Homo sapiens: one gene and its partners. The protein of the gene in region 1 purifies or fractionates together with the protein of each later gene. This does not show direct contact. Each region holds a gene or a part of one and is shown in the gene's direction. Other genes may lie near its edges. The genes, in order: TTC4, SERPINC1, ACAD11, TXLNG, LUM, MYH2 and PYGM.

Region 1 (3,500 bases):
AAGTGATCCACCTGCCTTGGTCTCCCAATGTGCTGTGTACTCAGTGGACCTTTTCAGTCTGGAAACTCATGTTTCTAGGACATTTTCCTGAATGCTTTGATATTTTTCTTTTTCTTTTTTACTCTTTTTTCTCTTTTTGGAAATCCTGGCTGCTGGTACTTTGGGAACCAAGTAGGAGAAGAGGACCAAGGGCTCAATCTTTAATATTTCCTTTACTGAATCACCTTTGTGCCTGGGGGTTCCAGTCCAGAGACCTACTGTTTTATTGTCTGCTAGGGTAAACCTCCAGTCCTCCACCTGGAGGAACAGGGGAGGAGTAGGTCACTGGTGCAGCAGAGGGGTAAGGAATATGGGACTCTGACTGCTTCTTAAGTAGATTTTCAACCCACCTTCACCCCCACTTCCAGAGGTACCTGGTGCCATCAGTTCCTGAGTCCTGAGTACTTTGTAGTTTCTGCAGTGCAGCTTGGTAGCTTTTGTGCTTTCCCTCTACTGGTTTAGAATTCAGTTTCCTTAAGCCTGATACATCAGTTACTTGTTCCTTTGTTTTCCAGCTTTCACAATGTGTTCTGTGTTCTTCTCATTTTCTTTGTCTTTATGGGAGAGAGAGTGGGGATTGAGTTAAATGTATGTGTTCAATCTGCCTCCTTTAACTAAAAGTCCTTGGATCCCTTTCATGTGCATTTTTTTCCATGGTTGAGATCCTGCTGTTCTTCCAGTTTGATATTCAGTTTTTTCACTTAATTTTATAACAAACAATTTCACCGTCATTAAAAATCATTTCTGAATGTTATTTCAATAGCTAAAGTTGCATCATATGGACATGCCACTATTTATACTGTTTGCTTTATTAGTCTGCTATTGTTGAGTATATAGACTGTTTTTTGGTTTTTATAAATAATGCAAAAATAAATAAAGTCATAATATTTTTCTGATAATTCTGATTATTCATTAGGCTAAAGCACGATTTGGCAAACTAGGACTCAGAGTCCACCCCTGGCCCCTTGGCTTGCCATGAACTAAAAATGTTCCATACTTTTTTTTTTTTTTTTTTTAAAGTGACAGGGTCTTACTCTGTTCAGGCTGGAGTGTACTAGCTGTGATCATAGCATAGTGCAATCTTAGACTCCTGGGCTCAAGCAATTCTCCCACTTCTGCCTCCCGAGTAGGTAGAACTATAGGCATGTACCACCATGCCCAGCTAATTTTTAAAAAATTTTTTGTAGAGAGAGAGTCTTGCTATATTGCCCAGGCTGGTCTTGAACTCCTGGTCTTAAGCAATCCTCTCACCTCGGTCTCCCATAGTGCTGGGATTGCAGGAGTGAGCCACCTCCCCAGAGGTTTCTTACATTTTTCAAGAATTGTAATAAAATGAAGAAGAATGTGCAGTAGACCACATGTGGCCTGCAACACCTAAAATATTTATCTGGCCCTTTACAAAATATTTTGCTGACCCCTGGGCTAGAGATTTAGGTAAATACTAAACCATTAAGTAATAATTATAGTATACTCCAGAAAGTTAAAGTATACCTCATGGCTTGCTAGTTTGGATAACTGGTATGTGTGTGACTGCATACTTTTTTTTTTTTTTTAATGCACTTACAAATATATACATGTGTGTCTAGATATTTAGTTTTTTTTTTTTTTTAAATAGGCTTCCTCTATACTCATAGAACCACCACTTAAAACAATATAGAACAGACATCCTACCGTGTTTCTTACATGAGGATCTATCTCATTCTTTTTAATGGCTGCATAGTATTCAATAGTATGGATTTACCATAATTCATGTAATCATTACCAAATTGAGGATATTTGAGTTATCTCCAGCTTTTCACAATTAAAGTAATGCTGTAGTTAACATGCTTTTACATTTATCCCTGCACATTTGTTCAAGTATTTTTGATAATTTTCCAGAAGAAAATTGTTGTGTCAAAGTATATGTACAAAATACATGCTAATTTGCTTTCTAATTTACCCTGAGAGTACCCCTTTTCCATATCTTTTCTAATACTAGATATTATTTGTCTAACTTTTAGCAATTTCTTAATTTTAATTTCCTAATCATTAGTGATGTTGAACGTCTTTTCATGTGCTTACTAGCCATTTACAGTTCTGTAGATTGCCTGTTATAGACATTTCTAAGGCTCTTGACAAGTACAACCATATTTTTTCAAAAAAACAGTTGCTCTCATTTGTATTTCCCCAGGATTGTACAAGAGTGTCTTTGTCACTACATATAAAATTTTGGAAACATTTTGATCTCAAAACTTCTCTCTTTTACTAAACGGTGTTTTGTTAGGCAATTTTCGTTCTGCTCTCAATGATGTGACAGCTGCCAGAAAGCTAAAACCCTGCCACCTCAAAGCAATAATAAGAGGTAAGTCTTGTGGAACTACAGTATGACATTTAAAGCTTTGATATGAAGGTGCTAGGATACTAATAAAGTCATCTTATTTTTGCAGTCTGGGTATTAAGTTCCTGTTCCTTATCAACAGCAACATGCCACTTTTAAAAGAATTCCTCAGAGAGTGACTTAACCCTTTATGTAATAATAATTTGTAGAGAACTAGAAGCCCCTCATTTTAAATTAATAAAAAATAAAATTAATTAAAACAAAGCAGTTGCAAAGCCATATTCTGATTTTTTTTCCAAATTAGCTGATTGAAAGGCAAGGTCTTCAAATGCCATGTTAATGTTAATTAAAAGATAAGTTATGGGACCTTTGCTGATGACTTTGGTGCTGAGATGTTCTCAGATTATGTTTTCTCTTGTAGTCTGACCTTTCTATGTAATAACAGTGCTTTTATTACTTTTATACTTCACCTTTTCTTTGAGAAGCTCATAGGTGCTTTGCAAACTTTAATTTATTCATCACATATTAATCTTCCCTGCATCCCCATGGACCAGCTTAAAATGCTTTTTCAAAATTATGCCTCTTTAAATGTTCATGGTTAAGGGCAGTAGGAAGATCCATGTCCCTCAGCTGTAGGAAAAGAAGGTACTGAACAAAGATTGGCTGATAAATTGAATCTAGGTAATCCTGTGGAATTTGCCTCAGGCTAGAAGTGTGTAATCCTTGATTCAGTTGTTGGTTTAATTTACAATGTGACCTTGGCAAGACACCCACTTTGAATATCAGTTTGCTCATCTCTAGAAGATGGGGTTAGAATCTGTTGGCATCTAAGCCCTTACAATGCTTATATTTTGAAATTCTGTGGAAAACCTAAAGAGGCTAACTGGAGAAAAATGTACATGATAACATGAAATTTTTTTTTTTTTTTTTGATGGGGGAGAGGCAGCTTAAACTGGTAGCCATAAAGAACAAAATTAGGAGACACCTAATGTTTTTGGCCTTGCCACTGCCTTGATGAATAGCTGAAGCAAAGTCTGCTTTTTCCCTCCATTGAAAAAATCATCTGGGATGGACTTTATTCTTCCTGTTTGCAGATGAGGAACCTAAAGCTTGGATATGCTTGGTCCTTTGTCTAAGGTCTAGC
Region 2 (3,500 bases), about 120 Mb from region 1:
TCACCGATGTCATTCCCTCGGAAGCCATCAATGAGCTCACTGTTCTGGTGCTGGTTAACACCATTTACTTCAAGGTACTCAGAATGGCCCTGGAGAGACCCCAGGGACTTCCTCTTGCTCTTCAGCTTACCCCCTTTTTTTTTAAATGGCGAGACCGAAGCCCTGAGAGGGCAAATGGACTGCCGAAAGCTACACAGGTACAGGTCAGCAGGGCAGGTCAATCTATTATTTATTTATTTATTTATTTTTGACAGAGTCTCGCTCTGTCGCCCAGGCTGGAGTGCAGTGGCGTGATCTCGGCTCACTGCAAGCTTCGCCTCCTGGGTTCACGGCATTCTCCTGCCTCAGCCTCCCAAGTAGCTGGGAATACAGGCACCCACCACCATGCCTGGCTAATTTTTTGGTTTTTTTTTAGTAAAGACGGGGTTTCACCGTGTTAGCCAGGATAGTCTTGATCTCCTGACCTCGTGATCTGCCCACCTCGGCCTCCCAAAGTGCTGGGATTACAGGCATGAGCCACCGCGCCCGGCAGATTGGCTTCTTTCACCTAGTAAAATGCATTTACTGTTCCTTTGTGTTTTCGTGGCTTTGTCACTCATTTCTTCTTAGCATGGAATAGCATTACATTTGGTCTGGATGTACCACAGTCTGTCTATTCATCTACTGAAGGACATTTTGGCTGCTTCCAAGGTTTGACAGTTATGAATAAACCTACTCATAATTCCATCATTCTGACACAGCCATTGTTAACCTTTTTGTGCATATCCCGCCAGTCTTTTTTCCGAATAATTATATATTAATGTAACACTATAATATGGATATGTCTTGTGTCAATAACTATCCTCCTATGAATGTTTGTGTTCTTACTTTGTGATTCTCTTCCAGGGCCTGTGGAAGTCAAAGTTCAGCCCTGAGAACACAAGGAAGGAACTGTTCTACAAGGCTGATGGAGAGTCGTGTTCAGCATCTATGATGTACCAGGAAGGCAAGTTCCGTTATCGGCGCGTGGCTGAAGGCACCCAGGTGCTTGAGTTGCCCTTCAAAGGTGATGACATCACCATGGTCCTCATCTTGCCCAAGCCTGAGAAGAGCCTGGCCAAGGTAGAGAAGGAACTCACCCCAGAGGTGCTGCAAGAGTGGCTGGATGAATTGGAGGAGATGATGCTGGTGGTCCACATGCCCCGCTTCCGCATTGAGGACGGCTTCAGTTTGAAGGAGCAGCTGCAAGACATGGGCCTTGTCGATCTGTTCAGCCCTGAAAAGTCCAAACTCCCAGGTTTGTCTAGGAAGGAGTTTCCTCCCTTCTCCACCCGCAAGGTAGTCTGACCAAAAGTGGAAGAGTTGGAGAAAGAATAGAAAGGAGCAACAAGTCAGGACTCCTGGATACTGATCCTAGTTTCTACTGCTAATTTGTGGAAATCTCTTTTCCTTTTGAGACCTCAGTTTCCTCTTCTGTAAAAGGGAAGTTTGTTCTTGGATCTCCATGGGCCCAGCTAGCACTGGTGCCCTGTGAGTCTGTATCAGGTAGAGGAGATGGGACCAGGTGGAGAGGAATTTGAAAGGGCATTGGAATTCAGAGCAAAGAGACAGATATTAAGAGCTGGGGAAATGTGGTTCCCATTACACAGGCCTCACTGACATTTATTATTATTATTATTATTACTTGAGACAGAGTCTTACTCTGTTGCCCAGGCTGGAGTGCAGCGGTGCGATCTCGGCTCACTGCAACCTCTGCCTCCCGGGTTCAAGCGATTCTCATGCCTCAGCCTCCTGAGTAGCTGGGATTACAGGCACACGTCACCATACCTGGTAATTTCTGTATTCTTAGTAGAGATGGGTTTCACCATGTTGGCCAGGATGGTCTTGAACTCTTGACCTTGTGATCCGCCTGCCTTGGCTTCCCAAAGTGCTGGGATTACAGGCGTCAGCCACCGCACCTGGCACATTAAAATATCTTTTAAAGAAGTTGGCTGGCCAGGGTGGCTCACGCCTGTAATACCAGCACTTTGGGAGGCTGAGGTGGGAGGATCGTCTAAGCCCATGAGTTCGAGACCAGCCTGGACAACATAGTGAGATGGTCTCTACAAAAAATAAAAAAAATTAGCCAGGCATGGTGACGCACACCTGTAGTCCTAGCTTCTTGGGAGGCAGAGCTGGGAGGATTGCCTGAGTCCGGGAGGTCAACGCTGTGGTGTACTGTGATCACACCACTGCACTCCAGCCTGAGCAACAGAGTGAGGTCCTATCACTAAATAAATAAATAAATAATAAAATAAGTTTACGATGTTAAGTAATTAGATTTATCTTTATTGACCTTTTTTTTTTTTTTTTTTTTTTGAGACGAAGTCTTGCTCTTGTCCCCCAGGCTGGAGTGCAGTGGTGCAATCTTGGCTCACTGCAACCTCCACCCCCCAGATTCAAGTGATTCTCCTGCCTCAGCCTCCCAAGGAGCTAGGATTACAGGCGCCTGCCACCACGCCCGGCTAATTTTTGCATTTTTAGTAGAAACGGGGTTTCACTATGTTGGCCAGGCTGGTCTTGAACTCCTGACCTCAGGCGATCTACCTGCCTTGGCCTCCCAAAGTGCTGGGATTACAGGCGTGAGCCACTGTGCTATTGGGCTGTCTTTAAGCTAGTTTTGAAAACTAAAAATGTTGCCAGACTGGAAAGAAAGATGTTCCTTCTGGATGGAGTGAGTTTTTTCTGTAAGAACAGAGTCTTGCCGTTTCTCTCTCCCACAAAAAGCTGAAGCCTGAGAATGAATTATCAGGAGCCATGCTGAACAAGCCCAAAGTACTTTTATTATTATTATTATTATTATTATTATTATTATTATTATTATTTTTGAGATGCAGTTTTGCTCTTGTTGCCCAGGCTGGAGTGCAGTGGCGTGATCTTGGCTCACTGCAACCTCCACCTCCCGAGTTCAAGCGATTCTCCTGCCTCAGTCTTCCAAGTAGCTGGGATTACAGGCATGCGCCACCACACCTGGCTAATTTTTGTATTTTCACGATAGAGACAAGGTTTCACCATATTAGTTAGAGTGTCTCCAACTCCTGACCTCAGGTGATCTGTACACCTTGGCCTCCCGAAGTGCTGGGATTACAGGTGTGAGCCACTGCACCCAGCCCCCAAAGTACTTTATTATTTTTAACACATATTCATTGTGAGAGTATGATTAGGTGAAGATTTAGGATTTCTTCTTATGTTTCAAAAAGCCCCAAAGGATCTCTTAATCCAAACTGAATTCCCATCTGTGGGTTGAAGCCAACTTTCTCCCATCTCACAAAGACTTCTCCGGTCTTCCTTCCAGGTATTGTTGCAGAAGGCCGAGATGACCTCTATGTCTCAGATGCATTCCATAAGGCATTTCTTGAGGTGAGTACACCTTCCCCACTCTCTTAGGGTACAGAAAGGAGATGCATGAACAGCAGGAACACGTGGAAAAGGCCTGTTTCCAGTGTTAAGGCATGCAAAAGGCCTCCACAGGCCTGCTATAA
Region 3 (3,500 bases), on another chromosome or scaffold:
AATATGGTGAAACCCTGTCTCTACTAAAAAATACAAAAATTAGCCAGGCATGGTGATGGGCGCCTGTAGTCCCAGCTACTCAGAGGCTGAGGCAGGAGAATCGCTTGAACCCAGAAGGTGGAGGTTGCAGTGATCTGAGATGGCGCCACTGCACTCCAGCCTGGGCGACAGAGCCAGTCTGTCTCAAAAAATAAATAAATAAAATTTAAAAACTGGCAACAACCGAAATGTCCTTCAACAGGCAAATGGATAAACCAACTGATACATACTTACAATGGAATACTACTCAGCAATAAAAAGGAATGAACAGTCAATACACAGAACAATTTGGATGAAACTCAAAGGCATTAAACTGAATGAAAGAAGTTGGTCTCAAAACAATACATGCTATATGATTCTATTTACATGACATTCTGGAAAAGGCAAAACTATAGTGATGGAGAACCTATCAATGGTTGCCAGAAGTTAGGAGTGAGAGGAGCCTGTGACTAAAAAGGGGCAGCACCAGGGAGTTCTGTGGGAGATGGAACTGTTCTGTGTTCTTGACTGTGGTTATTCCAATCTATACATGTATTATAATTCAACTGTCTACTAAAGAAAAGGTCATTTTTAATGAATAAATAACAATAACAACACAGCAAATTGCTGCTGAACTGTCCCCACACTGAAATTGTGCTGAGAATTTTCTAGTTTACCTGTAAGCAGCTTCACTACCATACATTTAGCCAAGTTTCCATGACAGCAGGCAATTAGCATTCAGGAGGGCCTTTGAGTGGTTTGGCGGTAAGGCAGTTGCTCAGTTCAGCCATCTTTACCTTAGACATTAAGATATCCAAAATAAATGATTTTTCTGGGAAAATAAAATTTCTTTCTAAAATATTTCAATTTTAACTGTAAGCATTCCACAAGTATGTGGTTAGGCTGGTGTATATCAAATGAATTAACTCTTCCATTTAAAAATACATAGAGTAAAGCTTGTGAACAATCTCTGGCTTAGAGAGTGTTTTCACCAAACTATAAGACTGTGTTACACGTGGACATCAGATACCAGCTTAGCTCCTCCTTCTTTTGCTGCCTTTTCCTCCCCTATAGGAGGTTGTGGCTCACTGGATTGCTGAAAGCCGCATTGCCATTGAGAAGATCCGCTTGTTGACTCTGAAAGCTGCTCACAGCATGGACACTCTGGGCAGTGCTGGCGCTAAGAAAGAGGTGAGGCTACCTTCTCCCCTCAGACCACCAACTGCTGAGCCTTCTCCAGTTCTCTCACCTGTTGGACATTTCAGTTTTCATGGCATCTTGATGGCACTCAGAATATTGGAAGCCCCCATGTGATTTTGGGTTATAAATTATAAATGCCTGTCACTTGCTAGTCTCCTAGCAAGTGCTTTAGGGAATGATTTTCAGGAGGGAGAATATCTTCAGCATTCTTAAGATACAGCAACAAGGAATGGGGGAAATCATAGGCTTTACACAGCCCTGGAACTGCACCCACTCTGCCACTTTCTTCTAGCCTTGTGATCACGGGCAAAGTACTTAACTTTTCTGCCTAAGGCCTAGGGTTGTTGTGAAGAGTAACCAAGATGATGTACATAGAATGTGCAGAAGCCACGTACAGTGGCTCTCGCCTGTAATCCAAGCTACTTGGGAAGTGGAGGTGGGAGAATTGTTTGAGGCCAGGGATTCGAGACCAGCCTGGGCAACATAGTGAGACCCTGTCTCTTAAAAAAAAAATTAGCCGACATGGTAACTTGTACCTGTAGTCCCAGGGAGGCTGAGGCAGGGGGATTGCTTGAGCCCAGGATTCTGAGGCAGCAGTAGTGAGCTATGATCACACCTGGGAATAGCCACTCCACTCTATTCTGGGTGACAGAGTGAGAGCCTGTCTCAAATAACAAAACAAAAAATGCACAGCATGATACTGCTACATAGTAAATGTTTCATGAAAGAGACCTCTCATCCTTTGCTTTCTTATGTTTCTGGATTATATGAAATAAAGACATAATCATTTAATTCTAAAAGCCCATAAAACTGCTAAAAGAAACCTGATTAATAGCGCAAAGACCCTTGGACTATTTTTATGATCCCTAAGGTGATGAGTGTGATTTATCAGCTGCCTGAAATCCTTTTGGAAACAAGACAAGTTAGAAATAAATGGATAAAATGTGATTTGGAAGAGGTGTCTCTTTCCAGAGGGTCTGTATTGACTGAAATATGGCATTGCAGCAGGATCTCTTTGTTGGCTTTTGTTAAAGATCCTGTTTTAGTGGTGACTTGGATGTGGGAAAGTTTCCTTGTTTCATTTCCCAGTTTTGCCACATTGTGTATAGTCTAAGAAAGAAGCATTCTTTTCATATTTTGCTTATATAGATTGCAATGATCAAAGTGGCTGCCCCACGGGCTGTCAGCAAAATCGTTGACTGGGCCATCCAGGTGTGCGGAGGTGCTGGTGTTTCCCAGGATTACCCTCTGGCTAACATGTGAGTAGATGTCATTTAAGAATCATCTACGTTTGATAGGCGTGGAGGTAAAAAATCTACAGATGCCTTGACATTAATTGCTTATGTTTATTTTCAGTGTAATTGAAGGCTAAATGAAGTGATATACATTAATATAGAGCTCAACACCAAGAAATAGTTGCTCTTATTATTACAATAATCATTTCATTCCATTATGTTAATTTTTACACTGAGGGGTCCCACTGAGGATTCCTGGGCTGTAGATACAGCATGGGGTTTCGCTGAATTTGTAGCAGGACATGTCAGTGACTATCTAATATATAGATCCTGATGACTGGGAGGCAGAAAGGAACATTCTCCATTCCCCATCTGTCCATCTCCACACATAATTACAGTGTCACCTTCTCTATCACAATGGAGATAGAGTCTCATCCTTCATCAATTTTAAACCTTAAGAAAGAACTAAATATATAGTATCATACCAGTCACTGCCTGTTCTAAGTTCTAGCAACATGTAGTAAACTGTAGCAAACCAAGAATGAGATGAACTCCACTGTACTTTGGCATTTAACTTTCCCAAGTTGGAAACTTTAAGATGGCATTGCAGAAGCCCTTTAGCTTATTTTCCTGGTACCCTTTTTCTTACCCTGACCTTGGTGGAATTTAAGAATTAATATAGTCTTGGTTGACAATCAGAGTGACTGATGTCAAAGTATCATGTTCCTCTTCCATAACTCCCTGTGTTCCCTGATTCTTTTGCTTTTTCAGGTATGCTATAACCCGAGTTTTGCGTTTAGCAGATGGACCTGACGAAGTTCATCTTTCAGCAATCGCAACAATGGAGCTGCGGGACCAAGCCAAAAGACTGACAGCCAAGATATAAGGAGGGTGGCACTGCCACATCCCACTGGCAGAAACTCTCCTTTATACAAACTTCATTGGCTCCAACATTTGAATCTCATATTTTTGTAGCAGTTTGAGCACAGGGTTAATTATTCATTTGTGGTAAAGATTATAGCATCTATTTTGATCAGTGGGTTTTAT
Region 4 (3,500 bases), on another chromosome or scaffold:
ATGATTATAACCTAAAATCTCAAATATCTGCTCTCCCATAAATTTTGAAAGTAGCTTTTGTCCATTTGTGATAAGAGAAGGATACTAAACACCTCCTCACCTCAACAGTATTATTCAGAAAAGGAAGAGGCCCTCTTTCATACAGAGAGTAAATGCACAGAATTTAAATTTGTGCCACATCATGACCAGGAAGTGTTCACAAGGGGAAAAAACTCAAATAGGGTTAACAATGTGATAGAAGACAGTTACTGACATAAGAATAACATACTGGAATAAAGGCATCTTTACCATGTGTATTAGGGCAGGGATAGCTGCTTAAAATATCAGTCTCAAAATTTCCATGGCTTAGCATGAGAGAAGTTTATTTCTTGTTCACCTATAGTCCAGTGTAGGTTTTCTTTGTAAGTAGGGTGGCTTTCCTGTATGTACATAGGATATGGAGGCCTAGGCTTCATTAATCCTGTGGCTCTGCCATCCCTTAGGGTCTTGGAGATGTCTGCATTTTGCCAGAGTCGGGGAGAGATGGTTGAGAAAGAACTTGTGCTTCTAAGAATAAAAGTCTTGGACAGTCGTGTCCTATGCCCACATTCAGTTGGTGGGAACTTCACGTGGAAGTCGCCCCTTGGTGTAAGGGGGCTGGGGAATAGTCCCTGGCTGGGCACTTGTCTCATAGTGCCAACTCCACAGGAACTTGGGGGAGCATGGGGTTTTGATGGATAGCTAGCTAGCCATCCCTGCTGTACTGTCTCCTTGAGGATAAGATTAGAATAATTAATATTCATTAACTGGGGACAGTTTCACTTCTGTTAAGGTGCTAATTATGTTAAGTGGTGAATTTTTATGTGGAAATCAATTTAGATTTATAACTAAATGGGTTTCTTGCCTCCTTTGGTACTGAATAGTTGTGTGATTCATTTTAACTAATTTCCTTATACTTTATAGTTAGGTCACCTCTCAGTGAAACCTAGAAAGTACCATATTTACATCAATTTTGCAAACCACTAAGGAAGAAAAAACTATCAGGCTATGATGTTCCATTGCTTGTAAACATTGATTACATTAGATTTAACCCCTTCTCCATCTTTTTTCTCCTTCTCCTTTCTTCTAGTTTGAAATTGGCACAATGGAAGAAGCTGGAATTTGTGGGCTAGGGGTGAAAGCAGATATGTTGTGTAACTCTCAATCAAATGATATTCTTCAACATCAAGGCTCAAATTGTGGTGGCACAAGTAACAAGCATTCATTGGAAGAGGATGAAGGCAGTGACTTTATAACAGAGAACAGGAATTTGGTGAGCCCAGCATACTGCACGCAAGAATCAAGAGAGGAAATCCCTGGGGGAGAAGCTCGAACAGATCCCCCTGATGGTCAGCAAGATTCAGAGTGCAACAGGAACAAAGAAAAAACTTTAGGTAATAATCCGTTCAGTGGTTGGACGTTTCACATGCTAATCATTTTACTTGTGTTTTCTGCAGCCCAGATAATTTTGAACACAGCCACTTTAGAGGTGCTTAGCCAACACCCCTAGTGTCTTCGGTGAGGTCAGTCCATGTGTCTGCTGCAGTTATGTGCAGGAGGCGAAAACAGCAGAGAGGACGCTTAGTTTTTTTTTTTTCCAAATAATCAAGAATTGGCTAATTAAAAAATTTTTTTTGTAGAGACAGGTTCTCACTGTGTTGCCCAGGCTGGTCTCAAACTCCTAAGCTCAAGCAGTCCTCTCCTGCCTCGGCCTCCCAAAGTGCTGAGATTTCAGGTGTGAGCCACTGTGCCCGGCCACATTGCAGTTATTTCTGATCATTTTCAGTAATTGTGTTTAATCGTCTCTTAAAGGTCTTATTGGCCTTGGGTTAAATGAGAGAAGATTTCATTAATAAAATTTTATGTGAGTAGAAAAGCATTCTTTTTTGAAGTCACCCTTTTTCCCCCATAGCAGTCTGTATGTCAGAGTTATTTTGAGATATATATTTTGATGCAATATCTTACATATAAGAATGAACATTAAAAAAATAAAAATGGTACCTATCACCTAGCTTAAGAAATAAAAGATTACCCCTTACTTCGAAATGCCATTAGTCCCCTCCTAATCTCAGCCACCTGCCTCTCTCTGCCAAAGTCCTTACAGTATTGCTAAGGTCTTTCCCCACAGGAAGAGCTATCTTGTCATCCTTTGGTTAGTTAACCTTAGTTAACACACAGAATATACTTAGTAAATCATAAGAAAAGCACACGTTTTTAAATTGTTCGTAGGAAAAGATATGTTCTCCTGTGATTATGTGTGTCTTTGGCAAAGTGTAGTACCAACTGAAACTCCCTTTGAACTTGCTTCTATATTCGAACTTGGTTAGGAGGAAGCTTTAAAAAAAATTCCATGCCCTTTGTAACTTGCCCTTTGTCTTAACTTGGACATCAGTGATTAGGCAAGGAAATTTATAAGCTTTTAACAAGAGTTCTTATAAATAGCTCGCAGTGTTAGTGAATGAGTTAAGAAATTTGGGGTGGGTATGGGGAGGGGAGCGAGGCCTGCTAATCCAGAATTTAAAAATTGCCTTTTTCATTGAGCTGGTAAATCTCTTATTTATAATCATAGGTGTAAATTAGTTTACTCTGGATGTCAGAGCACGGGAATTGTTAGTAGAATTTACAGGTTAGATTTGATCTCATTCTTCTGGGACTTATTTCTTTTCTTGTTAACCATCAGGAAAAGAAGTTTTATTACTGATGCAAGCCCTAAACACCCTTTCAACCCCAGAGGAGAAGCTGGCAGCTCTCTGTAAGAAATATGCTGATCTTGTGAGTATTAAGCCAAGGATGTGAGAGCCATATAAAATATAACAAAATGTGTGTGTGCTTGATAAGTTTCTTAAAGTACAAATTTGATATGGCCTTAAATGTAAAATTATATTTTATTCTGAAATTGAAGAAGAGAATCTGTTTTGTTGGGGCTTTTTATTGGTTGTATAGTTTCATTTTATGAGGTAATATATAGGGAACATTGTAATACTAAGATGTGGCATAGATTTTCTAAAACTCAGTTTTAGAGTCTAAGTCAGCCTTTCCATTGCTATGTTGTGATGCCTTAGGTGCCACTCAGTTGGGGTGTAGTGGTTCCTGTCTTAAACTTTTCCTAAGGGAATTCTAGAGATTGAGGACTGTTTTGATTGAGATTGTGAGTTACATGAAATCATCTGCTAAAACAATACTTTGTCTCAGAAATACTTCTTTAGCATCTACTATGTGTCAAGCATCCTTTTTTCCATTTTCTAGAAACAGTGACCTTATCAAAGAGTTTGTTCTCAGCTATATTATTTTATTTTATTTTTTTGAGACGGAGTCTCGCCTGTGGTCCAGGCTAGAGTGCAGTGGTGTGATCTCAGCAGACTGCAAGCTCCACCTCCCGGGTTCACGCCATTCTCCTGCCTCAACCTCCTGAGTAGCTGGGACTACATGTGCTCGCCACCACGCCTGGCTAGTTTTTTTAATTTTTTAGTAGAGATGGGGTT
Region 5 (3,183 bases), on another chromosome or scaffold:
AAGATAGATGTGTTATTTCTAACAAGATCAGATAAGTGTTCCAGTGTTGCCCACCTGGGTAAGTGGCAGAGGTAGAATTCCAAGATGGGACTATGCCCATCTTCTTTCCATTTTTCCTCACTTTCTCAAATGTTGGTACCATAGAAAAATCCCTGGAATTAACTGATGAGTTATTTTAAAAAGCATGTGTGTTTGGGGTTCCACTGAAGTCTTTGTTAACTAGAGTTTGAAAATGAAAACAAGATAAAGGACTTGAAAATGTTAATCTAAAATAGACATAGGCAAACATAGTTTCTGTGTATACACAGGTCAGTCAATTCAGTAACACTCTTGGTTTCTATTACAAAGTAAGTCAGTGTTTCATTTGTGGCAGCTTTTTGACCATGGACAAAAATAAACAAATAAACAAAAACATGAGTTCAGATGGTGGACATGCCATGATTAGGTTTTTGCCTTAGAATTTTGATCATTGCTATGGTGTGTGATTGCTGGAATGATTTGGTTTTTGTCTTGGAATTTTTATCATGGTCATGGTATGTGGTTGCTAGAAAATTCTTTATAGATCATCTAGTTAACCCTTCTTATTTTTAGATGTAAAACCAAAGAGTACTTATACTGAGATTGTTCATACAACAATGGGATCCATTTATATTTCTTCAGGTTATACTATTTCAAAAAAGTTGTTAGATAATATGACACACTTATTGAATGCCTTTTTAAAAACAACTTCTAGTAATAAAATAAGTTCTGTTATTTAAAATATTCCACTGAATATCTTGATCTACCATGATTACTCTTTACTAAATGTTACTGTGCCATTTTGGTAGCCTGAAATATGCCTTTAATGGTTGCAAATTCAAACATATACTATATTATGACTTTTCTAAATGGGAAGAGGTCCTATTTTATAATATATTAAACATAAATTTTTTGTATTGTTTTGAGCCAGTGTACTGAAAAATGATTAATGTTTTCTATTCTTTAATTTTTAGAGTTTGACATAAAGAGCTTCTGCAAGATCCTGGGGCCATTATCCTACTCCAAGATCAAGCATTTGCGTTTGGATGGCAATCGCATCTCAGAAACCAGTCTTCCACCGGATATGTATGAATGTCTACGTGTTGCTAACGAAGTCACTCTTAATTAATATCTGTATCCTGGAACAATATTTTATGGTTATGTTTTTCTGTGTGTCAGTTTTCATAGTATCCATATTTTATTACTGTTTATTACTTCCATGAATTTTAAAATCTGAGGGAAATGTTTTGTAAACATTTATTTTTTTTAAAGAAAAGATGAAAGGCAGGCCTATTTCATCACAAGAACACACACATATACACGAATAGACATCAAACTCAATGCTTTATTTGTAAATTTAGTGTTTTTTTATTTCTACTGTCAAATGATGTGCAAAACCTTTTACTGGTTGCATGGAAATCAGCCAAGTTTTATAATCCTTAAATCTTAATGTTCCTCAAAGCTTGGATTAAATACATATGGATGTTACTCTCTTGCACCAAATTATCTTGATACATTCAAATTTGTCTGGTTAAAAAATAGGTGGTAGATATTGAGGCCAAGAATATTGCAAAATACATGAAGCTTCATGCACTTAAAGAAGTATTTTTAGAATAAGAATTTGCATACTTACCTAGTGAAACTTTTCTAGAATTATTTTTCACTCTAAGTCATGTATGTTTCTCTTTGATTATTTGCATGTTATGTTTAATAAGCTACTAGCAAAATAAAACATAGCAAATGGCATCACTGTGTTTGACTTCTTGTGAAATTTCTGTACTTTGTATATAAAATACATAAAACAATAGATTAGAAATCAAAAGATATCTCTGGCCTGCAATATTTTACTGATGTGAACATAGGATTTTCCACTAAATAATTTGTCTACTTCTAGCATTCACTTACAAAGAGTTCTTAAAAACACCTATAATAGGTACTTAGATTTCACAACTTACTTAGATATTTGTCATTATTCCCATTCCTGGTGTTTTTACTGGTTCATATACAATGGTATTCTATTAGATAAGAAGCTGCTATGTGATCTCAGCACTCACTCCTTGGTTGTCAAGAAATGGTGGATAACTCACAGGATTAAAAATGAATGAATATAAAATTTTCTGAAATAGATATTTAAAAAATCATTTTAGCTTGAAGCCAATATGTCTGGATCATAGGTTTTGAGTTCATAATCCAGTAATAACAGCTTTCAGCTTTCTATGAGTATATACAATTCTATACAATGATAAATACTCTGCATATAATTTATAAAAATAACTTCTGTTTTACCTAGTTAACAATAAAACCTATGTGTGGAGCCAAATGTTATGCAGACAAAGGTCTGCTCATCCCATACCAGTGTATATATAGTCAAATATGTGTCTAGTACAAATAAAATGTATCTCTAAGGCATAAAATGTTTTAACACACCACTTTTAGTGAACTCTATCTTATGGTACAGCGGCCTTTCATCAGAGGATCATCATTGAGACTGAGTTGACTGGCAGATATGTGCGATGGATATTACATTAGGTACAATGTGTATTTTTGATTTTCATGAGTTTTCTACATTAAGGTAAATTCCTTAGAGTGTGATAGCAGCCTCAGTTTATTTGTTGGTTTAAACTTGAAATCTACTTTTTCTCGATAAAACTATAATGTAGATGAATTGAAAATGAATTTTCTTTTCCCTGTCTACAAAAGTCACTATCAAGCCTTGGAAACCTATTCTCAAATAGAGGGTAGATAATGTGCCATAAATTCTCTTTTAGAAAGAATGTGATGGAATTAAATGAGCTTTGTCTCTATACTACTTAGAGGAAACATCTTCTCAGCAGACAGTCTGTCTGCATCTTTAAAAGCCTTTGATTTCTCTCTATCCAAAGTCCTATGTTATTCTCATGCCTAAGAAGCAAAACTATGACTTTTAAAACAGCAGTTCCCTTTGTAGTTAATGTTGGTTGACAAAGACAAAGTTAAGCACTTAGTGACACTTTGTTGTAGAAGCATCTGGGAAAGGAATATACCCTGTTTAGGAACAACTCCTCTTTTTAGAGGGAAGACTTCATCTTTTCAGGGCAAAGCTGGAGAAGAGAAGATTCCCACTTACTCCTTCACTCACTGGGCAGCCCTAGTGAGGTGCTGAGGGAAGAAAATCTGGTGAAACTT
Region 6 (3,500 bases), on another chromosome or scaffold:
AGTACATGATTTTCATCAGTCTGGCTCGGAGGCAGTTATGACACAAAGAAGCTGAGTTTGTATTTTCCACCATTCCCAGGCCCGCATTGAGGAGCTGGAGGAGGAAATCGAGGCAGAGCGGGCCTCCCGGGCCAAAGCAGAGAAGCAGCGCTCTGACCTCTCCCGGGAGCTGGAGGAGATCAGCGAGAGGCTGGAAGAAGCCGGTGGGGCCACTTCAGCCCAGATTGAGATGAACAAGAAGCGGGAGGCTGAGTTCCAGAAAATGCGCAGGGACCTGGAGGAGGCCACCCTACAGCATGAAGCCACAGCGGCCACCCTGAGGAAGAAGCATGCAGATAGTGTGGCCGAGCTTGGGGAGCAGATTGACAACCTGCAGCGAGTGAAGCAGAAGCTGGAGAAGGAGAAGAGTGAGATGAAGATGGAGATTGATGACCTTGCTAGTAATGTAGAAACGGTCTCCAAAGCCAAGGTACTACAAATTCTGGGAAATTGTTATTGAAAATAATGCATTATGGACACATCATAGTTTGCACAGGGCACTTTTTACACATTAAGTCATTTGTTAACTGCAGTAATTCAGGGAAGTAAGCACAAAAAATCAGCATTTTTTATTATTTCAACTTAACAAATAAAGGATCAGAAATTCAAAGAGGCCAAGCACTTTGACCCATCACGCCATTAATAAACGACAACACCAGCTTTTGAACATAAGCCATCTGTGTTCTCCAAGTCTCCAGTTATAGAACAAAGGTCTCCAATTATTTCAAGGAAATTGAAATAAGGAAAGTTTCATCGTACATAAAGGCAATGAAGTATTTTAGAACATGCTTTTAGAAAATGTACACTATACAATTCTAACAAAATCTTAAAATTAGAATATAACCTTAACATTTTCATATTAATATTGAACAGAGCTCCATGATTAGCTTTCATAAAATATAAGAAAAGTCAACCAAGTGTGGTGGCGCGCGCCTGCAGTCCCAGCTATTCAGGAGGCTGAGGCAGGAGAATCGCTTGAACCCGGGAGGCGGAGGTTGCAGTGAGTCGAGATCACGCCACTGCACTCCAGCCTGGGGACAGAGCAAGACTCTGTCTCAAAAAAAAAAAAAAAGAAAGAAAGAAAAATTTTTCTGCATTACATTACATATAAGATAATTTGGTTTCTTTTCTATATTAAGATAAATATTGTATTTTTTATTTTGGGGAGAAGTTACAGTAACTGCAAAGGTGATTATTATTCGCTTAAAAGGTCTCTGTTTTCTTCTTTTACTTTTTCTTCTATAGGGAAACCTAGAGAAAATGTGCCGGACTCTAGAGGACCAACTGAGTGAACTGAAATCAAAGGAAGAGGAGCAGCAGCGGCTGATCAATGACCTGACTGCGCAGAGGGGGCGCCTGCAGACTGAATCTGGTAACTCTCCCCTCTTCTGTGCAGCTTCAGGGTGGAGAGGATGTGATTAAGAACAACGGACTGATTTGGTGAAGTGGGAGCCTAATAAAACAGCTGAGAACATGTCTGATTCACTGAACAGCTCAGACACCTGACCTATGTGCAAGGTCATCTTGGGACAATGCTGGAGATAAAGGTTTCAATAGGACAAAATCAAGCTCTGTTCCAGAATGGCCTTGAGTATTTGCTCATTGCGAGGATGCTGGGATTAGCGGTTACTCCAGCATGAGTTCAGGGCTTCTCTTTCAGGCCAAGTTTCTCTTTATTTATATGAGGGTCAAGTAACTTCCAGAATGGGGCAATGAATATCCCAGTCTCTCAAAAGTCCTATGGAATGGGGACCCTGTAGAATTAGACATTTTAGCTTACTCATTTGACAGTCCTCACCAGATTTTGCACAATATCATATAATTCTGAAAGAATTAGTTATGGAAAGGACAAAAGGAATTTAAGCTGTATTTATTCATTCCGATTGATCTGAAAGTTTCACCATAAAAACTGAAAACCTGCATTGAGCATGAAGATGTCAGTATAGAATTCAACCATCTGAGCACTCAATTTGGGAAAATAAGAGTCAAAATTTCTTTCTAACATGGGCTTGCAGAATCTTGTTTTTCACCTAAAAAATGGTGCCATTTCTTTTGTCCATCAGGTGAGTTTTCACGCCAGCTTGATGAAAAGGAAGCTCTGGTGTCTCAGTTATCAAGAGGCAAACAAGCCTTTACTCAACAGATTGAAGAATTAAAGAGGCAACTTGAAGAGGAGATAAAAGTAATTATGATTCTAAGACTGATTTTTTCCCTCATGAGCTGATTCTACATGGAGCCTGTTATACCAGCTTTCAAAAGGTTTTGAAAGTTAAGAGTTAAATATTTAAATATCCAGTAAAATGAAGGTGTAACTGCCTCCATAGGCCAAGAACGCCCTGGCGCATGCCCTGCAGTCTTCCCGCCACGACTGTGACCTGCTGCGGGAACAGTATGAGGAGGAGCAGGAATCCAAGGCCGAGCTGCAGAGAGCACTGTCCAAGGCCAACACCGAGGTTGCCCAATGGAGGACCAAATACGAGACGGACGCCATCCAGCGCACAGAGGAGCTGGAGGAGGCCAAGTATGTGCACAGATATGAGAGAATGAGCAGAAAACTTTGCATATTGAATCAGAAAGACATGACCTTTGAAGATTCAGTGAATTAGTCCACAAATGCTCATTAATCTGCTTTTATGTGCCAGTCACAATCAGGCCCTGAGAATAAGACATGAATAAATCAAATATGGTCCCTGCCTTACGATCCTAAAATCTAGTTAAGAAAACAAAGAAGAGCAAATAATTACACTGATAATTAGGGGCCTCATTGCTGTTTGTCAAGCACAATGAGCTCATCGCTGCATCAGGGGCTTGTACCTGCTTTTCTCTCTGTCTGAAATACCCTCTCCACAGACTTCCCTTTGGCTCTCTGACTTTTAGCTCTTGACTCAAATATCTCTTCATGGAGGCCTTCACTGAATATCTAGAGTAGTTGCCCACCATTTATTTTATTTTGCTTCATTGCACTTGTATCTGTAAGGTATTATTACGGATGTTCTGATTTGCTTATTGTTTACCTCTCTCACTTGTTTGTGGTCTTCATGAAGCAGAGATCTTTTTTGTCTTGGTCACTGCTGCGTAGCCAGTGTCTGGTTCATAAAAGGGGCTCATCAATATTTGTTGAAAGAATGAAAGGTGGCTGGGCAGCATTAATGTGAAGTTTCTAACACTCTTCAGCGTGTGTGGCAATAGCTCATAATTCATATTATGGTTCACTTCTCTCTGAAAACATGTATAATATTCAAGGAAGAAGCTGGCCCAGCGGCTGCAGGCAGCTGAGGAACATGTAGAAGCTGTGAACGCCAAATGTGCTTCCCTCGAAAAGACGAAGCAGCGGCTGCAGAATGAGGTCGAGGACCTCATGCTTGATGTGGAGAGGACAAATGCCGCCTGTGCCGCCCTTGACAAAAAGCAAAGGAACTTCGATAAGGTAATTCCTCCAGCATCTTCTGCTCTTTACTCTA
Region 7 (3,500 bases), on another chromosome or scaffold:
TTTAAAAAATTAGCCAGGGTGCTGGTGCATGCCTGTAGTCCCAGCTACTCTGAGGCTTCAGTGGGAGGATCACTTGAGTCCAGGATTTAAAGGCTGCAGTGAGCTATGATTGTACAACTGCACTCCAGCCAGCCTGTGTGACAGAGTGAGACTGTTTCAAAAAGCAAAAAGACCAAAAACTGAAAACCTTAAAACCAAACCAGGTGTACAAATCCCAGTTTAGGCCGGGCGTGGTGACTTACACCTGTAATCTCAGCACTTTGGGAGGCCAAGGCAGGTGGATCACCTGAGGTCAGGAGTTCAAGACTAGCCTGACCAATATGGTGAAACCCAGTCTCTACTAAAAACACAAAAACATTAGCCGGGCATGGTGGCACGTGCCTGTAATCCCAGCCACTCAGGAGGCTGAAGCCAGAGAATCGCTTGAATCCAGGAGGTGGAGGTTACAGTGAGCCAAGATAGTGCCACTGCACTCCAGCCTGGGTAACAGAGTGAGGTCCCATCTCAAAAACAAACAAACAAAAAACAAATCCCAGTTCAGGCAATCTTCCTGCTGAAGCTTCAGGTCATCAGCCCCCAGATGGGCTGCAGATAAACCACTAGGCTTTCAGAACTGAGCATTTGTTTGTTGTCCTCCAGGTTAAGATGCAGTGGGGGCTGCTGGCAGTCCATGCCAGGTGCACGTGGCAACTGGCACAAGTGGCTGTGGCTGGAAGGCAGGAGACCTGGCTCCCTCTGGTGCTGCCAGCCTGGCTGTGTGCTCGGGGATGGGTCCCTTCCCTCTCTCTGTGTCAACTCCCACCCTGCACCAATCAGGGTGACTGAATGTGGGGAGGGAGGGCGATGCCCCTTAAAAGGGCTCGCTTAGAGGAGTGAATGTACCCCTGGCACCGTGGTAGCAGACAATTATTGATGTTTGCTAGTTATGGAAGGCGGGGCAGAATTAGTCACCGTGAATTAGCCCTGTGGTCAACCAGAGATGAGACCTTTGGATGGACTTGACCTCTGTGACCCCTTCAGCCTGGCCCTGGGTTCCCCCAGCCCTCTCATGAGTCCACAGTGTCCTCTAGCTTTTGCTCAGGCCAGGCTGGCCAGCCCAGCCCCCATTGCTGCAGAGTGGTCGCCAACAGAGCCCCTCCTGGGTTCCGGGCTTATCACCTGCCTCCTTCCATTTTCCTCACCACCGTCTGCCCAGGCAGGGCTTATGGGTGTCGGGGAGGTGTTGAGGGTGTCTTTGCTCTAGATGCGGTCCAGAGAGACTATGGGGTTTGCTCATGGTTACCCAGCTCATCGATGCTAGACAAGGACAAGAGCCTGGGTCTGCAGAGTGCAGGGATAAAGCCTTGAGTCCCAGCCCTGAGGGGAGGGAGGCAATTGCCAGGGCTGGCCAGCTCCTGACAGGATTGCCCCCCGCAGGTGGTACTGGCCATGCCCTACGATACGCCCGTGCCTGGCTATCGCAACAATGTTGTCAACACCATGCGCCTCTGGTCTGCCAAGGCTCCCAATGACTTCAACCTCAAGGACTGTGAGTTCATCCACTGGTAGCCAGCAACCCCAGCTTGCCCGCCGGCCACGCCCAGCGCAGGCCTTACCCTGTCCCCACTTTTGTCCCTCAGTCAATGTCGGTGGCTACATCCAGGCTGTGTTGGACCGAAACCTGGCGGAGAACATCTCTCGTGTCCTGTACCCCAATGATAATGTGCGTCACCCCCTGGGCTGGGGGCTGGAAGCCTGAGTCCTTGGCAGCAGGGGTCAGGGAGAGCTGGGGAAGGACACTTGCTGGTGCCCTAGTCACACCCAGGGCATATTGCTGGCCTTGTGCATCCTGTGCCCCCACCTCAAGTCTTTTGAGTGCAAGGACACCTGAGTCCTGAGGAAACTGGGTTAGCGAAGGGCACTTTGGAGGGGCTGTTCCCTGGCGACACCCACAACACACTCGGTTCTTGTACCCCTCTTCCTGACACTGTCTCTCGCCACTAGTTCTTGGTGGAGGAAAGGCCCCTGGGTCCCAGAGAGGGGGCCGGCTCAGGGCTCAGGGGTCCCGGTATGGGTGGGAGTCCCTCCTGGCCACACCCACCGCAGCTTTAGGCCATGCCCCCACCGCCCTGACTCACGCTGCCTCATGCTGTCCCCAGTTCTTCGAAGGGAAGGAGCTGCGGCTGAAGCAGGAGTATTTCGTGGTGGCTGCCACCCTCCAGGACATCATCCGTCGCTTCAAGTCTTCCAAGTTCGGCTGCCGTGATCCCGTGCGCACGAACTTCGATGCCTTCCCAGATAAGGTACCATGCGTGTGGAGGGCGACTCTGTGACCGGACAGTGTGTGCTAGGCCTCTCCCTCCAGCCTCGGCCTGCCTGCCCCATGTAATAGATAAGGGAGTGGAGACTGGGAGTGTGGGAGGGTCAGTTGTTCAGGATTCACAATCCACAGGCTCAGAACCTGGGCTTCCCTCCTCCTCCCGCCCCACTCCCCCCATTCCTCCCACCCCCATGAGCACCGGCCTGCCTCTGCCCACAGCCCAGTCACAGAACCGTGCTGGGCTCTCTGGGGGCCTCCAAATGGCATAGGGCAGTGACCATAGCATGGAATGTGGTTTGGAGCCCAGACTGACCCCTCCCCCTACCCCAGGTGGCCATCCAGCTCAATGACACCCACCCCTCCCTGGCCATCCCCGAGCTGATGAGGATCCTGGTGGACCTGGAACGGATGGACTGGGACAAGGTGGGCTTCAGGGCCCCTCTGCCCCATCTGATGCTCTCTGCCTCGGGGTTCCCTTCCCAGTTTGGGAGCGTGGGAGGATATGAATGGAGTGAAGGGATCAGAGCCTGAGGCCAGAGGGACCGTCCTGGAACCTGGCACTGCAGTGGGGGGGCCCACTGGGATGCGTAGTGTGTGAGGAGACCCACTGGGCTGAGGTCAGCATCCTGACTGCCCACCCCGTGTGCCAGGCGTGGGATGTGACAGTGAGGACCTGTGCCTACACCAACCACACGGTGCTGCCCGAGGCCCTGGAGCGCTGGCCGGTGCACCTCTTGGAGACGCTGCTGCCGCGGCACCTCCAGATCATCTACGAGATCAACCAGCGCTTCCTCAACGTGAGTCCGGAGGCTTGGGGGATGGTGTGGGGGTGAGGGGGGACACCCAGTCTGGGCCTGGGAGTCGGGGCGTCCAGCCAGGGCCCTGAGACTCTGGGGCAGTGGGGGCACTGGGCAGAGCTCTGGGGGTGTGGGGCTGGGGACTGGGGATGGGGGTTCCTGGGTCTGGTTCTAGCTCTGGGCTCTCTGGGCACAGCGGGTGGCGGCCGCATTCCCAGGGGACGTAGACCGGCTGCGGCGCATGTCGCTGGTGGAGGAGGGCGCAGTGAAGCGCATCAACATGGCACACCTGTGCATCGCGGGGTCGCACGCCGTCAACGGCGTGGCGCGCATCCACTCCGAGATCCTCAAGAAGACCATGTGAGCCCCGCTTTCCAGATCCCGCCCCTCTCTAGGCCCCACCC

What was found.
Region 2: the proteins of TTC4 (region 1) and SERPINC1 purify together in Homo sapiens (co-immunoprecipitation; one large-scale study listed by IntAct). This does not show direct contact.
Region 3: the proteins of TTC4 (region 1) and ACAD11 purify together in Homo sapiens (affinity purification with mass spectrometry; one study listed by BioGRID and IntAct). This does not show direct contact.
Region 4: the proteins of TTC4 (region 1) and TXLNG fractionate together in Homo sapiens (co-fractionation; one large-scale study listed by BioGRID). This does not show direct contact.
Region 5: the proteins of TTC4 (region 1) and LUM purify together in Homo sapiens (co-immunoprecipitation; one large-scale study listed by IntAct). This does not show direct contact.
Region 6: the proteins of TTC4 (region 1) and MYH2 purify together in Homo sapiens (co-immunoprecipitation; one large-scale study listed by IntAct). This does not show direct contact.
Region 7: the proteins of TTC4 (region 1) and PYGM purify together in Homo sapiens (co-immunoprecipitation; one large-scale study listed by IntAct). This does not show direct contact.

Annotation. Positions count from the first base shown.
Region 1 is NC_000001.11:54,718,861-54,722,360, forward strand, and holds part of TTC4 (tetratricopeptide repeat protein 4), read left to right. Parts: intron 1-2,302; coding exon 2,303-2,380; intron 2,381-3,500.
Region 2 is NC_000001.11:173,907,328-173,910,827, reverse strand, and holds part of SERPINC1 (antithrombin-III isoform 1 precursor), read left to right. Parts: coding exon 1-74; coding exon of another isoform or gene 75-197; intron 198-885; coding exon 886-1,276; intron 1,277-3,313; coding exon 3,314-3,378; intron 3,379-3,500. UniProt on the Homo sapiens protein: Most important serine protease inhibitor in plasma that regulates the blood coagulation cascade. AT-III inhibits thrombin, matriptase-3/TMPRSS7, as well as factors IXa, Xa and XIa. Its inhibitory activity is greatly enhanced in the presence of heparin.
Region 3 is NC_000003.12:132,558,810-132,562,309, reverse strand, and holds part of ACAD11 (acyl-CoA dehydrogenase family member 11), read left to right. Parts: intron 1-1,092; coding exon 1,093-1,209; intron 1,210-2,367; coding exon 2,368-2,477; intron 2,478-3,224; coding exon 3,225-3,339; 3' UTR 3,340-3,500. UniProt on the Homo sapiens protein: Acyl-CoA dehydrogenase, that exhibits maximal activity towards saturated C22-CoA.
Region 4 is NC_000023.11:16,817,466-16,820,965, forward strand, and holds part of TXLNG (gamma-taxilin), read left to right. Parts: intron 1-1,108; coding exon 1,109-1,412; intron 1,413-2,698; coding exon 2,699-2,790; intron 2,791-3,500. UniProt on the Homo sapiens protein: May be involved in intracellular vesicle traffic. Inhibits ATF4-mediated transcription, possibly by dimerizing with ATF4 to form inactive dimers that cannot bind DNA. May be involved in regulating bone mass density through an ATF4-dependent pathway.
Region 5 is NC_000012.12:91,102,129-91,105,311, reverse strand, and holds the end of LUM (lumican precursor), read left to right. Parts: intron 1-992; coding exon 993-1,147; 3' UTR 1,148-2,683; downstream 2,684-3,183.
Region 6 is NC_000017.11:10,525,659-10,529,158, reverse strand, and holds part of MYH2 (myosin-2), read left to right. Parts: intron 1-79; coding exon 80-469; intron 470-1,284; coding exon 1,285-1,411; intron 1,412-2,102; coding exon 2,103-2,221; intron 2,222-2,363; coding exon 2,364-2,560; intron 2,561-3,282; coding exon 3,283-3,466; intron 3,467-3,500. UniProt on the Homo sapiens protein: Myosins are actin-based motor molecules with ATPase activity essential for muscle contraction.
Region 7 is NC_000011.10:64,753,475-64,756,974, reverse strand, and holds part of PYGM (glycogen phosphorylase, muscle form), read left to right. Parts: intron 1-1,416; coding exon 1,417-1,528; intron 1,529-1,619; coding exon 1,620-1,702; intron 1,703-2,138; coding exon 2,139-2,282; intron 2,283-2,629; coding exon 2,630-2,722; intron 2,723-2,949; coding exon 2,950-3,096; intron 3,097-3,292; coding exon 3,293-3,456; intron 3,457-3,500. UniProt on the Homo sapiens protein: Allosteric enzyme that catalyzes the rate-limiting step in glycogen catabolism, the phosphorolytic cleavage of glycogen to produce glucose-1-phosphate, and plays a central role in maintaining cellular and organismal glucose homeostasis.